Linked DNA regions of Homo sapiens: region 2 is linked to region 1. Evidence: fine-mapped expression QTL. Tissue or cell type: whole blood. Region 1 holds a variant in brackets; the other region holds the start of a gene. All regions are shown on one strand. Distances are between the middles of the regions.

Evidence for each region. PIP is the estimated chance that this variant, and not a neighbour inherited with it, causes the effect.
Region 2: GRK3 starts here. The variant in region 1 is fine-mapped to the expression of GRK3 in whole blood (INTERVAL, PIP 0.98).

The regions. Positions count from the first base shown.
Region 1 is chr22:25,321,769-25,329,872 of GRCh38, forward strand. No RefSeq gene overlaps it. Among named protein-coding and RNA genes, the nearest start is that of CRYBB2, 110 kb to the left of the region's middle. The variant G/A (reference allele first, on the strand shown) is at 4,966.
Region 2 is chr22:25,560,578-25,568,681 of GRCh38, forward strand. It overlaps GRK3 (G protein-coupled receptor kinase 3), which reads left to right and starts at 4,098. Exons shown (of 21, transcript NM_005160.4): 1 at 4,098-4,576. The coding sequence starts at 4,464. It overlaps GRK3-AS1 (GRK3 antisense RNA 1), which reads right to left and starts at 4,839. Exons shown (of 4, transcript NR_183564.1): 1 at 4,503-4,839; 2 at 3,513-3,782; 3 at 2,726-2,904; 4 at 311-921. RefSeq lists silencers at 4,024-4,123, 4,434-4,683 and enhancers at 4,795-5,310, 6,593-6,772.

The DNA.
Region 1 (8,104 bases):
AGGATTTTTCCAGCTTCTAGAGGATGCCCTGGGCTCCTGGCCCTTTCCTCCAACTTCAAAGCCAGAGCCAGCATCTTCAAATCTCTCCCACTCTTCTCTCTCTCTCTCTCTCTCTCTCCCCACCGCCTTCTCTCACCCTCCCTCCTTCTCTCCCTTTCTTGTCCTCCAGCCCCACACCTGCTGTCACTCTGACCCTCCTGCCTCCTCCTTTCCCTTATAAAGACCCCACCTTGGACCCACCCACATAACCCAGGATCATCTTCCACCTCAGGCCCCTTGACATCATCACATCTGTAAAGTCCCTGAGGCCACACAACACAGCACATGGACAGGTCCCGGGACTGGGACACAGCCGTCCCTGGGCCCTAATTCAGCCCAACCACAGCTCCTTTCCTTCCTTCCTCTCTCCTTCTCTGGGTATAAGAAGGGAATGCAGAGAGGTTGGTCAATGAATACACACTTACAGTTAGATGCAAGGAATGTGTTCTAATGTTGGATAGCAGAGTAGGGTGACTATGGTTAGCAATAATGTATTGTATATTTCAAAATAGCCACAAGAGAGAACTGAAATATACTCAACACATAGAAATGATAAATACTGAAGCCATACCCCAAATATCCTGACTTGATGATGACACGGTGGATGCACAGAACCAAACAGCACATGTAACTCAGAAATGTCCAATATAGGCCGAGTCTGGTGGCTCACACTTGTAATCCCAGCACTTTAGGAGGCCGAGGCGGGCGGATCATGAGGTCAGGAGATCGAGACCATCCTGGTTAACATGGTGAAACCCCGTCTCTACTAAAAATACAAAAAAATTATCTGAGCATGGTGGCGGGCACCTGTAGTTCCAGCTACTTGGGAGGCTGAGGCAGGAGAATGGTGTGAACCCAGCAGCCAGAGCTTGCAGTGAGCCGAGATTGCGCCACTGCACTCCAGCCTAGATGACAAAGCAATACTCCACCTCAAAAAAAAAAAAAGATATTTCCAATATCATGTATCAGTATATTCTTTTCTATTAATAAGAAAGGCAAGAAAAAGAAGTTAAGCATGAACTAGCCATTTGACCTAGCAATTCCAGCCCTAAGAATTTGTCTAGAAGAAATGAAAGCATGTGTTCCAAAAAGACGTGTACATAAATGTTCTCAGCAGCCTCATTCACTATAGGCAGCAACTGGAAACAACCCAAGTGTCCGTCAGCTAGAGAATGGATAGACCCATATGGTCTGTGCATACAGTGGAGTACTGCTCAGTTACACAAGGAAAAGAAACTATGGATACAGGTCACAGGAGGGATGAACTTCAAAACATTACAGTAAGTGAAAGAAGTAAAACTCCACGAGAGAAGTTGGTGGGTATGGATGTGTTTTTGAACTGGCAGAATTTTACTCTGTTCATTGGGGTATCAGGTATTGAGTCCCTATTGACCAGGTACTGTGCTAGGTGTGGCCATTACAGAAATCAGAAGCAGACACCAGCTCCATTGTGATGAGACTCACTCGATCAGCCATTTCTGATGAACAGTGAGGTACCTTGACACTCACTGCTTACATTTGCAGGCTTTACTTAATGCCACTTAAATCTCCCTGTTCCCCAAGTCTCCTTTCTTTTTTCTTTTTTTTTTGCTAGACAGATTCTTGCTCTGTCACCCAGGCTGGAGTGCAGTGGCACCATCTCGGCTCACTGCAACATCCATCCCCTGGGTTCAAGCAGTTCTCCTGCCTCAGCCTCCCGAATAGCTGGGATTACAAGTGCCCACCAACATGCCCGCTAATTTTTGTATTTTTAGTAGAGACGGGGTTTTGTCATGTTGGCCAGGCTGGTCTTGAACTCCTCCTGACCTCAGGTGATCCGCCTGCCTAGGCCTCCCAAAGTTTTGGGATTACAGGCATGAGCCACCGTGCCTGGCCCCCACATCTCTTTTCTTTCCAACTCCCCTTATTAGACACAGCTTTTTAAAGCAATCCCTGCCATACCCATGGCTTCAATTGTTTTCTATATGCTCTGATGAGAATAAAATTTAAATGTTGTTTTTATATAACAGCTTTATTTTACATGACACCTCATTCACCATGATCATAAATTCAGAGTTGCTCTAAGAAAGTAATAACTAAAAAATTGTCATATTCTTTGTATGTAAATGTTAGGAAATTTCGTTAATGGTTTGACTTAACGTGTGTGTTATTTTTTAAAACATGAGTTGTGATGTCATAGAATGGACTTAGCCTACAGAGGTTTCTATCCAACTTTCAAGCAGAGAGCTCCATTTCAGTGCGATACTTAAGAGTCCAGAACTATCTTTTTTTTTTTTTTTTTTTTTTGAGACGGAGTCTCACTCTGTCACCCAGGCTGGAGTGCAGTGGCATGATCTCGGCTCATTGCAAGCTCCGCCTCCCAGGTTCAAGGGATTCTCCTGCCTCAGCCTCCCGAGTAGCTGGTATTACAGGTACCTGCCATTGTGCCTGGCTAATTTTTGTATTTTTAGTAGAGACTGGGTTTCACCATGTTGGCCAGGCTGGTCTCGAACTCCTGACCTCATGATCCACCCAGCTCGGCCTCCCAAAGTGCTGGGATTACAGGCGTGAGTCACCGTGTCTGGCCCAAAACTATCTTATTCCCCATACCTATTCCTCTTCCTACATTGTCTGTGTAGGAGAAAGTCACTGATATTTACCCAGTCCTTCAAACTAGAGCCTTAGCAGCCTGTTTTTCCTTTTCCTTCCCCTGTTCTTCCACATCTAATCCTCTAGCACTACCTGTTCTCTCTCCCAAATGAACACAAAACTTTTCCGTCCACTTCAGTCATTTCCTCTGCCTTTGGCCTTATCTGTTCTCCCAGATGAACATAGTGTCTCTCTCTCTTTTTTTTGAGACAGAATCTCTCTCTGTCGCCTAGGCTGGAGTTCAATGGTGTGATCTTGGCTCACTGCAACCTCCACCTCTCGGGTTCAAGTGATTCTCCTGCCTCAGCCCCTCGAGTAGATGGGACTACATACAGGTGCCCGCCACCATGCCAGGCTAATTTTTGTATTTTTAGTAGACATGGGGTTTCACCATGTTGGCCAGGCTGGTCTCGAACTCCTGACCTCAAATGTTCCACCCACCTCAGCCTCCCAACATAATGTCTCTTAATTGGTCCCATTGCTTCCATGAGTCCTTCTCTGTTGTGCAGAGAGACCTCACTGCAAACACGTCTGATAGAGACTCCTCATCTCTATGTGGTTCCGTGACTCTCATGTTGCTAGAATAAAATTTAAACTCTACTTAAACTCTACTGCTGGACAGTGAATGAGTCTTTGTATTCCAGGTTCATTCACTGCCCAGCAGTGTAGTCTTACACAACTGAACTCTCTAAGCCTTGGTTTGCTCATCTGCCTGAACTCACTGAGTGTTGGGACTGTTTCAGGACCATGAAGTGCCTCACCCTTAGAAGGGATTTAATGTTGAATGAAAGGGAGGAATTTAAAAATCCACATAAAAAACATTTTTTTGTTGTTTTTTGAGATGGAGTCTCGCTCTGTTGCCCAGGCTGGAGTGCAGTGGCACAATCTCAGCTCACTGCAACCTCTGCCTCCTGGGTTCAAGTGATTCTCCTGCCTCAGCCTTCTGAGTAGCTGGGATTACAGGCATGTGCCACCACGCCCAGCTATTTTTTGTATTTTTAGTAGAGATGGGGTTTTGCCATGTTGCCCCAGCTGGTCTCAAACTCCTGACCTCACGTGATCCACCCACCTGGGCCTCCCAAAGTGCTAGGATTACAGCTGTGAGCCACCGCGCCCAGCCATTTTTCTTAAAATAAACTAATCTACAATGTCACTTCCCCTCCATGCTTGACTTCTACCTTTACTTTCTGATAACCACAGTCATCTTGTGGGGATCAAGACTCCTCAGGATTAAAATCTGGCCCCACCTTGAGCAGTCGTGGGACTTTGGGGAAGTTACTTGACTTTTCCATCTAGATTTATTCTCCAAAATCTATAAAATGCGACTGTTTCTGAAGGTTAAATTAGTAGGCCACAGTTGGAACAGTGTCAGACACATAATGCTTGCCAGATGTTGACTATTCATCTTTATCAAATGAGGACAATGGTACCCCACTGTGTGGTTCTTAATTTTGTATAAGAAAATAATGTTTTATGCATTATTAGTAAAAGAAATACCTGAGGCTGGCCGTGGTGGCTCACACCTGTAATCCCAGCGCTTTGGGAGGCTGAGTCAGGTGGATCACCTGAGGTCAGGAGTTCAAGACCAGCCTGACCAACATGGTGAAACTCTCATCTCTACTAAAAATACAAAAATTAGCCAGATGCGGTGGTGCATGCCTGTAGTCCCAGCTACTCGGGAGGCTGAGGCTGGAGAATCACTTGAACCTGGGAGGTGGAGGCTGCAGTGAGCCGAGGTCGTGCCACTGCACCCCAGCCTGGTCAACAGAGTGACACTCCCATCTCAAAAAATAAATAAAAAGTAAATAAAAGAAATATCTGAATACCCCTGCCATGGAAAGAAGAAACAGCGAGAAAAGGGAGTTGGTACGTCCTAGCATTACAGAACTGGGAAGGATGTGTTCAGTCCCTATTTTATAGACGAGGAGGGAAGTGTGATGTGTCCCAGGGTTTCACTGAGGATACACAGCCATAACTCTCTATTGAGAGTGGGACCAGGGCCCTGGGGGTAGCTATGGTCAAGTTGCAGACAAGAACTAACACTTGTAAGACAGGAGAGAAGCATTTAGTTACAAAAGCAGTCAAAAACTTGTGTATAACTACATTTGGTGAGCAAATGAAAGCTGTCAGACTCAAAAACAGAAATGCTGGTGGAACTGACTTTAGTAACTGGGGTTTTCTTTATTTTATTTTATTTTATTTTATTTTTTTTGAGAGAGTTTCAACCCTGTCACCCAGGCTGGAGTGCAATGGCGCGATCTCAGCTCACTGTGCAACCTCCACCTCCTGGATTCAAGC[G/A]ACTCTCCTGCCTCAGCTTCCAGAGTAGCTAGGATGACAGGTGCCTGCCACCACGCCGAGCTAATGTTTTGTATTTTTGGTAGAGATGGGGTTTCACCATGTTAGCCAGGCTGGTCTCGAACTCCTGATCTCGGGTGATCCTCCCCCATCAGCCTCCCAAAGTGCTAGGATTACAGGCGTGAGCCACCGTGCCCGGCCGTGCCAGGGTTTTCTATTGAGTTTCTTGCCAAGGGTGACTTCCAATAACAATCCCCCCCTGCACTTTGCTTAGTTCTGGAAAGCTCAGGCCGCACAGGGTGAATAAAAGCCTGAGTAGTGCAGTCCCCATGGAGGGGCAGGGGTGCCACAAGGTGGGCAGCAGCTGGGATGGGCATTGTGAGGCACTGGGGGGGCTGTGGGGCTGGACATGGTGAGTCACTAGCCTGACCTGTTTCCTGGTAACCAGGTGACATAGGAAGCTTTGTGGGTTATAGGCATTAGCCAGGCCAGCAGCCCTCAGTCGGTAGCTGGCAGTGGAGGGAGGAGGAGCTCCGACTGTGCTCTTTGACGGCAGTTTTTGTGCCTCTTGGCGCTTGTCGTGTTTCTTTTTGAGGTAAAACAGTAGGTCCCCGACCTCATAGACCATCCAGTTTGGGAGGTGGCGGCAGACTACGGGCTGAGGCCCCAGATCTGCCTGGGGTCAGGCTGCTTCTACAAGTGCAGGGCCACCCTCAGTAGTGTGGCTGCTAGGGCAGCACAGTTACAATTTCATCGAAGGCTCAGGCAGGAGTGGAGAGGAGTGTAGGTGCCCCACGGGGAATATACTGACCTGTCGTGTGTGCCCCAAAGTCAGCTCCGACTGTGGCTGGCCCAGGGGGAAGGCAGCATCCAGTTATGAATCTGATATTTATGAGGCCGTGGCTGCTGCAACATCAGAATCCACTACCGTAGAGCCTGGCAAGCTGGATGTGGGAGCCACGGAGGGCCAAGACCTGCAGCACATCAGCAACCAAAAGATGCCCACAGGTAAAAAAGCCACGGGTGCCGTTTACCCTCTGGCACACCTCTGGCCACCCCCACCCCCTTCCCTTACCCTCATCCCCAGAGACATCCTCAGCTTCCAGCTCCCTCCTGTCCATAGCCAGCTTTCCCAGGTCTGGGCATGGGGGACAAAGGCTGGCTCTGCCTCTTGCCTTAGACATTGAGGCTTTTTTGATCTAGTCTCTCCCTTTTCTCAATGAAAATTCAAATACCCCAATTTTGGAGTCCCCATCCCATTCTCTAGCCTCACCTATCCGGCCGGTTTGGTACCTAAATGAAGGAACCAGCTAAGGGTCAGATTGTTACTTTTCTCCCAACCCTTAAAGTAGCTAATAATTGGGATAATTCAGGCCCAAATATTTGGATTTTTTGTTTTTTTTTTTTTGAGATGGAGTCTCACTCTGTTGTCCAGGCTGGAGGGCAGAGGCATGATCTCAGCTCACTGCCACTTCTGCCTCCCGGGTTCAAGCAATTCTTCTGCCTCAGCCTCCTGAGTAGCTGGGACTACAGGCACGTGCCACCACACCTGGCTAATTTTTTGTATTTTTAGTACAGGTGGGTTTCACCGTGTTAGCCAGGATGGTCTCTATCTCCTGACCTCATGATCCACCTGCCTCGGCCTTCCAAAGTGTTGGGATTACAGGCGTGAGCCACTGCGCCCGGCTGGAGATTTCTTAAATTCAAAATTCAAAATTATTATTTTTTGAGACAAGGCCTCATTTTGTCACCCAGGAATGCATTGGTGCAATGACAGCTCACTGCAACCTTGACCTCCTCAGGTTCAGGTGTTCCCCCCACCTCAGGCTCCCAAGTAACTGGCACTAAGGCATCATGCCAAGCTAATTTTTCTATTTTTTTTTTTTTGTATAGATGGGGTTTCATCATGTTGCCCAGGCTTGGTTCACTTTTAATAGTAAAGGACACCTCAAATGTTTAGATATTTGCTTTCACTTTGGGCAATTATGAATATAGCTATTAAAAACCTTGCTGTGTCTTGTTTAAAAATTATGTTTCCAAAATATAACTAAGGAAATACTTAGGATTATAATTACTTGCTTGTATGGTAAGACCAGGTTTTTCTTTGTAAGAATTTTGGGGCTGGGCACGGTGGCTCACGCCTGTAATCCCAGCACTTTGGGAAGCTGAGGCGGGTGATCACGAGGTCAGGAGATCAAGACCATCCTGGCCAACATGGCGAGACCCCGCCTCCACTAAAAATACAAAAATCAGCTGGGCGTGGTGGCCTGTGCCTGTAATCCCAGCTACTTGAGAGGCTGAGGCAGGAGAATCGCTTGAACCAGGGAGTCAGATGTTGCAGTGAGCCGAGTTCGCGCCACTGCACTCCAGCTTGGTGACAGAGCAAAACTGCGTCGCAAAAAACAACAACAAAAAAGAATTTTGGTAGAATTTTTTTTTTTTTTTTTTAACCAGTGAAATCATATGAATGTAGTGTTTTTGGTTTTTCCTTCTTTTGAAAGATTATTAATCATTGCTTCAATTTCTAAAATAAATATAGGCCTATTCAGATGATCTATTTTTCCCCAGAAGACTTTTGGTCTTCTAAAATCGATAAAAAGGAATGAGCTCATTTCATCTATGTATCAAATTGTGGGCATAGATGTGTTCAGAATATTCCTTTATTATTTTTTGATTTAACTGCTCTTCAATTGATGCTATTAGTACATTGTAACATCTTTCTTTCCTTTGTGGTTAGCCAAGGTAGAGGTTTATCAATGGTACTGATCTCAAAGAACTGGCTTTTTGTTTTATTGATTTTCTCGGATGATTTTCTGTTTTCTATTCCATTGATTTCTGCAAGAATTGTTTTTTAAGCTTAGAGTATGAATTTAGATTTTTCTCATTATTGACACCGCGTCATGAATGTAGTTCACTGAATTCAATCTCACTGAAATGTACACTAAATAATTAAAATAATATGTATGCTTCACCATAATTTAAAAAGTAAAACACGATAGGTGATAAATGTAGTAGCAGGATATGTAAATCCACAGAATTAAATGGTCTTGTAACATTTTGAAAAATGAGGGGATTGGCCTGGACCTTCAAATGGGCAGGAGGTGTGAGGAGATGCTCTCACAGAACCATACAGTGCCTTTCT
Region 2 (8,104 bases), 240 kb after region 1:
ATGTTACAGCATTGCTCTCACGGCAATCCCATTAACAACACTGAGGCAGAGCTGAGACACAGAGAGATTAGACAACTTGTCTAAGGTCACACAGCTCAGAAGGACTGGTCTTGGGCTTCTTATCCATTTGTCTTTTGAGCCCATGCTCTGAACCACAACACTGTGGCTTTTCTTTAGAGTGAGTCCCTGACCAGCAGTCCCCATAGAGAAATGTGTTTCCACTCACATATTGAAAGGAGAGTACTTCTCTACTGAACATCGTTTCAGTGCTAATAGCTAATAGTTTAATAAAAGCAAAGCTTGGCATCATACCTTTTGGCAGATCTTTATAAAGTTGTCATACATAGAGCTGCCATTAAAGCTTGTAAAGCTTTGTGGATAAAAGCAGCATGAAAAGCAGTTCATATGATGTGTGTGACAACAAACAGAATTGTGATCCAAATTACAGGTGAAACGGGACAGTGGCCCCTGGGAGGCTAGAAATACCTGCAGAGGCTTACGGAGTGAGATGTTTGTAAATAAAGCCATTCAAACATCAATTGTGTGTGGTTTTCTTGAGAAGCAACTGTATTTAAGGGACTGCTTATACAAAATCAAGTTCTTCTTAGCAAGGATTGCTTTAAATATTCTGACTTGAATGAAGGCCAGTCATGTTCTGCCATTTTCAAAAATCTTCTAACTGGAGTCTTAGAGTTGATTTTCTTTTCATTTGTGATTAATTTTCCAGAATAACATTCCCAGCTCCCACCCCACCCAGCGTTTATAGTCCAGAGATTCTGAGAGTAGGAAGTCTTAGTAAAGCCCAGAATCTAAAACAAATAAGACCAGTCAGTTCTCTAGTTAGCTTTTTTCCTTTCAAGTTGTTAGCAATATAAACTCTGGAAAGCCTAAACTTTAATGCACCCATCTCAGCAACATCTCCTGTAACGATGGAAAGGCATAGAAAAGAAGAAAAGGGAACATTATTAATCTTGTGGGAACGCTGGAGTTTTGTCTATTATCACAAGCAGCGTGAGCCCCAAGTCATTTAAATCCTCTGGGGGTGGGAGACATAATTATTTGCAAGGGAGCATTATTAGCTAAGTACAAATGGGTTGCTATTTGTTTTTTCTGTTCTTTGTGATGATTACAGGCTGGGGATGGTGTTTAGTAACAGGATCCAGCAGGTCAGTTATGACAACTTCATCATCACTGTCATTAACCCCTTTTGTTTGCAGTGAACACAAAAAGCTGTTCAGTATCAAGAGAGTCAAGAAAAAGGGAAAGAAGAGGGGGTGGAGAAAGTGAGACAACCAAAGAGACAGCCAGGGAACAGAAATTCATACACTATGAACACCAGAAAAAAATACCCCTGGGTAATTGAGTCAGCTGACTCAAATGGTGTAGGGGCCTCAGTTAGAGGACCAAATTTTGGACTCCTTGGTCTTTCTGCCAAAAGAGTAATTGCTCATGTTTATAGATGCAAATGTTTTTGCCATTTTGGTTCCTAGAAATGCCCTAGGGAGATGTTATTTTTGGTAAGGGGTCTTCCTGCTTCAAGTGTAATGACTGTGAACAACTAGTTTCAGTATCTTCTCTAGCATGCCAGGGTAAAATGAAGCAAAATAAATAGAGGAAGTGCCATGACCTTTATTGAGGATCTACTGGGTGCCAGGCAAAATGCTTTTTTTTTTTTTTTTTTTTTTTTTGAGACAGGGTCTTGCTCTCTTGCCCAGGCTGGAGTGCAGCAGTGCAATCTTGGCTGACGGCAAGCTCTGCCTCCCGGGTTCCTGCCATTCTCCTGCCTCAGCCTCCCAGGTAGCTGGGACTACAGGCGCCCGCCACCACGCCCAGCTTATTTTGTTTTTGTATTTTTAGTAGAGATACAGTTTCATCGTGTTAGCCAGGATGGTCTCCATCTCCTGACCTTGTGATCCACCCACCTCAGCCTCCCAAAGTACTGGGATTACAGGTGTGAGCCACTGTGCCTGCCCAGTGCTGCGATCTCGACTCACTGCAGCTTTCGCTTCCTGGGTTCAAGCGATTCTTCTGCCTCAGCCTCCTGAGTAGCTGGGATTACAGGCGTGCACCACCATACCTGGCTAATTTTTGTATTTTTAATAGAGACATTATTTTTAATGTATTTTTCCTGTTGGCCAGGCTGGTCTTGAACTCCTGGCCTCAAGCGATACACCTGCCTCAGCCTCCCAAAGTGCTGGGATTACAGGTGTGAGCCCCACGCCCGACAAGGTGCATTTTTATGTGCTTTTTCTCCTCTGTCTTCTCAACAACCCTGGGGTAAAAGGCCTCATTTCCACTTTTCCTATGAGAACAATAAAGTAGAAAGAGGTAAAAGACTGCCTCTAAGATCACCCAGCACAGAGCAGGGATTTGATTTCAGGTGTGTCTTGTTCCAAACTTAATATACTGTGCTGCTGGGGGAAAACAAAGAGCAAAAGGTTCTTAACTGAAGTCAAAGACGACCAAGAAAATGTAGGCAGATGTCAGGTCTGATCATGTGGATGCTCAAATGATAAACAGACACATTGAGAGAAATTGTATTAATTAAATCATAAAAATATGTTCCGCTTTTTGGGGAATTTACTCCTCCTCCTGGGGTGACCCTTGACAAGACATTCTGTCTTCCTGTTTTTAAGCAAAAAAAAAAAAAAAAAGTGGGTAGAAGATGAAAGTTTGATATTTCGCTCATGCATAGCTTTGTCTCCTTAATATATTTTGTGCTTGCCTGTCATTTCAGCTTTCTGCTGGCAGACGAAGCTCCTTCAACTGCCATTCCTACTTCTGACACTCCTCTTGTCCTTTTCAGGACAACTTTATGCCTATTGTGCCTTGGGTCTTGAGAAGCATGTGGTAAAACTGGCCAGTGGTGATGGCAGGCATAGCAGGGAATCAGATTGAGGGGGGCTGTGGCGTGGGAGAGAAAACAAAAGAGGGAAACAGGCTATTTGATGACAGAATCAGGCTGCTTCTGCAATGACATTACATGAAATATCTGAAATTTGACCTTAACTGTATCTGGTGGGTCCCGTTAACCCTGTAAGTTATGGACAGAACGTTCACTCAAATTCTAGCAACGTCTAGGCTCATGGAAATACGTGACCAATTCAGGTGAATGAAAGGGATTTTAAAACATTAATTTCCAGCTTAGGTCTTCCTAAGACTGCCTGCGTGTCCCTTACCACCACTCCAGCCTGAGTGTCACATGGATCCTGAATGCGGACTTGTGTGCACACTGTAGAAAAATAAGCAACTGAAAACCCCAGGCATCGGGGTGGAGTGATGATGAAAGACACCGAGACCGAAGATCAGGAAGCTGGAAATTCCCCCCAGCTTCGGTGTTTGGGCTGTATCTCGCTTTTCCACTTCCCTAAATCACCCTCGTGGTGCGAGTGTGCTCGCAGCAGATGCTCCCTAATTGTCTCTTGTATTGACCGTAAAACCCTAACGACAGGAATACTCTCTCTCCTTCTATTTCTCAACACCATTTCAACACCCAAACTAAAACCTCTCACCTGAGTGTAAGGGAGTGGTGACCTTCTTAAGCGGAGAGCTCTTCCATCAGAGGGCTCCCTAAGGGCATCTCTGTTCCTAGCCGGGGAGCCGTCACCCCACTTTGTTCTGCTTAGCCTAAGACACGCAACTTTTTCCAGCTTTTACTCTTCGCTGAATTCTCACGGTGGGGTTGGGGGGATGTTCAGGCTCAGGAGCGAGGTTGGGGGCCCGGCCCGCTGGGCGCTGTTCACCGGTAGCCCGGACCAGAGCAGGAGTTTCATCATTACCTGCTGGGATAGGTGGGACACATGTATTTCCGGGGCCACCCCAGACCTCCCGGAGGATGCTGATTGACACTGTCCAGTTTGAGAACTACTGTGTCCAGGGAGCAGAGGCCTCCCCATAACCCCTTGGGTTGTGGACGTCTGGCCCAGGGCTTCTCTGGGTGAGCGGGGCGGGCATCAGAGCGCGTGGAACCTGGGGCGGGAGGTCGGGGCAGTGAAGGAGGAGGAGAAGGAGGAGGCGGAGACCGAGGGGGAGGGAGGGGAGGAGGAAGAGGAGGAGGAGTCCCTCGTGGCCACCCCGAGGGGAGGGCGACCGTAGAGACTTGGTCGGGAGGCGCCGGCCCAGCGAGGCCGCTGGGACTGTGCACTGAGGGGCGCTGACCGTTGGACGCGCGCTCCCCGCAGACCCTCGCTGAAGGAGCAGGGGGCGGCGCGCGTGCGCGGGGCGCCGGGCGGCGCGCGAGGGGGCGGAGCGGGGAGGCGTGCTGCGACCCCGGCCGGCTACAGCCTGCGGCGCGCGCAGAGCGCTAGTGGGGCGCGCGGCGCGCGCGCGGGGCGGGGGCGCGCGGAGGGGGGGGCTGCCCCGGGGCGGCCCCCCCAGGTCGGGGCGCGGCGGGCGGCGGCGGCGGGCGCGCGTCCCGTCCAGGTCCGGAGTAACCGCCGCCGCCGCCGCCAAAGCTCGCCAACATGGCGGACCTGGAGGCTGTGCTGGCCGATGTCAGTTACCTGATGGCCATGGAGAAGAGCAAGGCGACCCCGGCCGCCCGCGCCAGCAAGAGGATCGTCCTGCCGGAGCCCAGGTACCAGCTGCCCCGGCCGGCGCCGGCCCCAAGCCGCCGCCCCCTGCGGCCGCCAGCTACCCCCTGCTTCCTGGAGGGTCGGGCGCTGAGCCTCCGCTGCCCCGGGGCGGGTGACACAGCGGAGCGGGCGATGCGGGGCCGGCCTCGTCGTTCCAGTCTCTGAAATGGGGCATCGGAGGGCCGGTGGGGGGCACCCCGGGAGAGAGCGCTCCAAAGTGCCCGGCGCGGCGCCCTGCGCGCAGCGAGCGCCCCAGCCAGGGTCTGGTTATGACTTGGCTGGACCAGCTCCATCCCTGTCGCCCCCTCCCCCCAGCCCTGTCCTGTCCTGCCCTGTCCCATCCCCGTGGTTCTTCCTGTTGCATTGGTGTAGTCCCCGTTGGCTCCTTGCCTGTCACTGCTTTGCGCTCCATCCTGGTCGCTCCTTCTTCCCGGGCTCATTGGTCCCCCTTTCCAACTCCATCCTCTCACCTCCCTCTGGGCCGCTTACCTGGGGACTGCAGGCTTGTTGCTTATTGTCCGAGGTAGTTAAACTGCTGTTTTCAGTACTTGCTCTTCTTGAAGTCTATTAAGTCTAGTCACCTTCTTCGGCTTCTCTTCTATTTTGTCCCCGGGCAGGATTTTGACCCACTCAGTATTCTTTTTGGTGCCAAGTGTGTCACCTGAGCTGCTTTCCTCAACTTGTAGATCTACTGGTGGCACTTTATTAAAAAATTGAAACAGGAGTCACTTAAAAAGACACTTGAATGGGTGATTCCAGACAGGAATTTGTTGTTAAATTATCAAAGGAGGGCCCGATTGAATTGGCGAGGGGCTCGGTGAGGTGCATACCAAGTTGCAATTTTCTCTCAAATGATTTATTATTAAGGTACTAGTAAAATTTTTTCTAGTTCATATCATTAGCACTTCCCCAGAAAAAATAGTTTGTCTGGTTAATAGTGAGTTTTAAATAACGTATCAAGGCTTCAGTGATGGATTTTTTTTTCTCTAGCTCCTTTCCTAATTAACACCATCATGAGTTGTACAGCTAATGTGATTCCTTGATGCTAAATAGCTCTTGGAATTGATGCTCAAAAGAGGCATCTTGTTTATGGTGAATTTGAAACCATGCAATTCTGTAAAATATTGGAATCTAAACCAAAGTTATTGTCCATTTGAAATCATCAGTCCTTCAAGCGTTAGGCGCCCAAGATTGCTTAAATGTTACCTAATGCTAAGTGATCATCATCTGATTTTTTTTACAAGTCATCCATGAGCCCTATGATACAGAAAATACCAGTCCCCTTGTTATTTGTTGTGAAAAGCTAAATTGTGCAAATGAAGACATGCTTGCTAGGTATTTTGAGCTTGCTTTTCCTCCTTAGCCCATGCCTCTTGTTGGTTTTGCAGGATGTGCTACTCTTTGATAGACAATGCCAAGTAGTGAAAATGAGGGAAAAGTGCAAACCTTTCTGCAATGTCGTGAGTTTAACACCCCTATTCCAGAGTGTAGCATATCTGAAGCTAATTGAAAAAAATCAATGCTGCTTAAAATTTCCGGCAAATGGGAAACTTACTTAGAGAACAAGAACGCCTACATCAAACCTAAATTTCACCAAAAAAACTGTACATTTCTAATGTGGTAGAAAAAGGCTTAATTCCTCTTTTGTCTTGCCTTTCCTAGTGTCCCTCCACCACCCAAAGGCAGGGAGTCCTAAATATGTAGTATTTCTATATACAAAATTGATAAATCTCAACTCATGGGCAGTTTTTTTTTTGGGGGGGGCTAGTATATAATATTAATAAAGTTAGGAACTTCTGTTCAGTTTTTTTTTTCTTGGTGTTTGGAACTTAATGTGACTTCTGCTTTTTTAGTGTCCCTCTTAAGAACGTACTTATGCACTTAGGGTGTTCACTTCCTTGTATGAATGCCTTTGTTTTTCAGTGGTATTCTTTGGTAATGCTTTCTTTTAAGGCAGAGTAAGTGACAGCCAGCATTATTTCTCATGACATTTGAAAATTGAGAAATACCAACCAGAGAGTAATTTTAGGAAACAGCCCTTCAGTAATTGTTACTCTGTTGCTCTTTTTAAAATAGACTCTCGAATTGGGCCATTGGAACCTCCTCCTGAGATTCTAATTTGTTTTCTACTTATCTTAGTGGCTTTGGCTTTAGTTTTGTAATGTAGCTATTTACATAGTAACAGTCACTCCTTGTGCTGTGTTAGGATTCTGTTACATTGAGATTATCAGGTATAACATCTTGCAAAATTCTCTCTACCACTGGATGGCAGTTAGTGGCCTACCTATTTGATTTGGAGGTTGGGGGTTGGGGAATTTCTAGATCCTGTAAAAAAGTTAATTGCATGTTAAAATGCCCCAGCCTAATGACTTAAATAGCTGGTATGACTTCACACTATTGGTAAAAGGGATACGGGTCAAATGTTTTCTGATAAGTTTCTATTTCAGCTTCATTATAGAGGAAGCCATGTGATCACCAGTTTTTGGTATTCTTGAAAGAGATGTTCAGATTTGTATTTTTGGTATCTGAATGAGAAGCATACATTTTAATTTGCCTTTGGTCTATCACTAGTGATTTTTTTATTTCCAGCAAATTATTTGCAGTCACTATTCTTTGTGCTTCCTTATTTTAGTTACTTTGCCTTTCCCACAGTTTTAAACAGAAGAGCATCAGAACGAAATATCTAGCTAATTTAAATGAAACACTGGGTTTGCAGCTTCCTGCCTATTACAGGAGAGTCTCAGAAAATGGAACATTCTGCCCAGGGGAGATTTTGCTTCCCTGAGATGGCAAGAGGCAAATATTTTGTTATGTTGACACTTTATTCAGTTAACCAACCAATGAGTGCAAATCCTGGAAAAGCTGACTGTTTGTCCAAATGGTATAGCTGCTTTAGTTTACTGAAATGTTGTTGAGCTAATGTAGCTGATAATGGGGCCTACTGGGAGTAGTAAACTGTGACCCACAGCCTCCCTTGCAGGCCCAGTTAAAACAGGAGCATTTAGATGTGCAGGCCAGTTGTTTTACATCATGTTGGAAAAGAAATACTTTTATTTAAGTAAGGTCTAATTCACAAGCAAAGGCCCACAAAGGGTCATCATCTTAAGCCCTGGAGTGATTCAGACGACTTTTACTGTAGGCTGTATTACTCTGTTACTCTTTTTTTTTTAAAAAAAACAGAATGAAATTCAGATGACTTGAAATCACATATAGTTGAAGGCGGTTGAGTAATGTGAACTTCATCTTTCCCCTGGAGTCTTATTTCTATTTACTGGACATTTCAAATGTTGGATCACCTATTGCAAAGCTTGTCCTTTCAAAGTATTCATACAATATGATAGGAAGGTCTGAAACAACATTTTAAAGATTCTTTATAATTTTCTAGGAGCACTGACAGTCCTTAAAGGACATTTATGATACCGTTTATGACATTAATTCAGTACATAGTTGTAGAGCCATTTCTATGAGCCAGGCACGGGGTACTATGACAAACCCAGCCACAGCCCCTTCCTTCATGGAGCTTATAGACT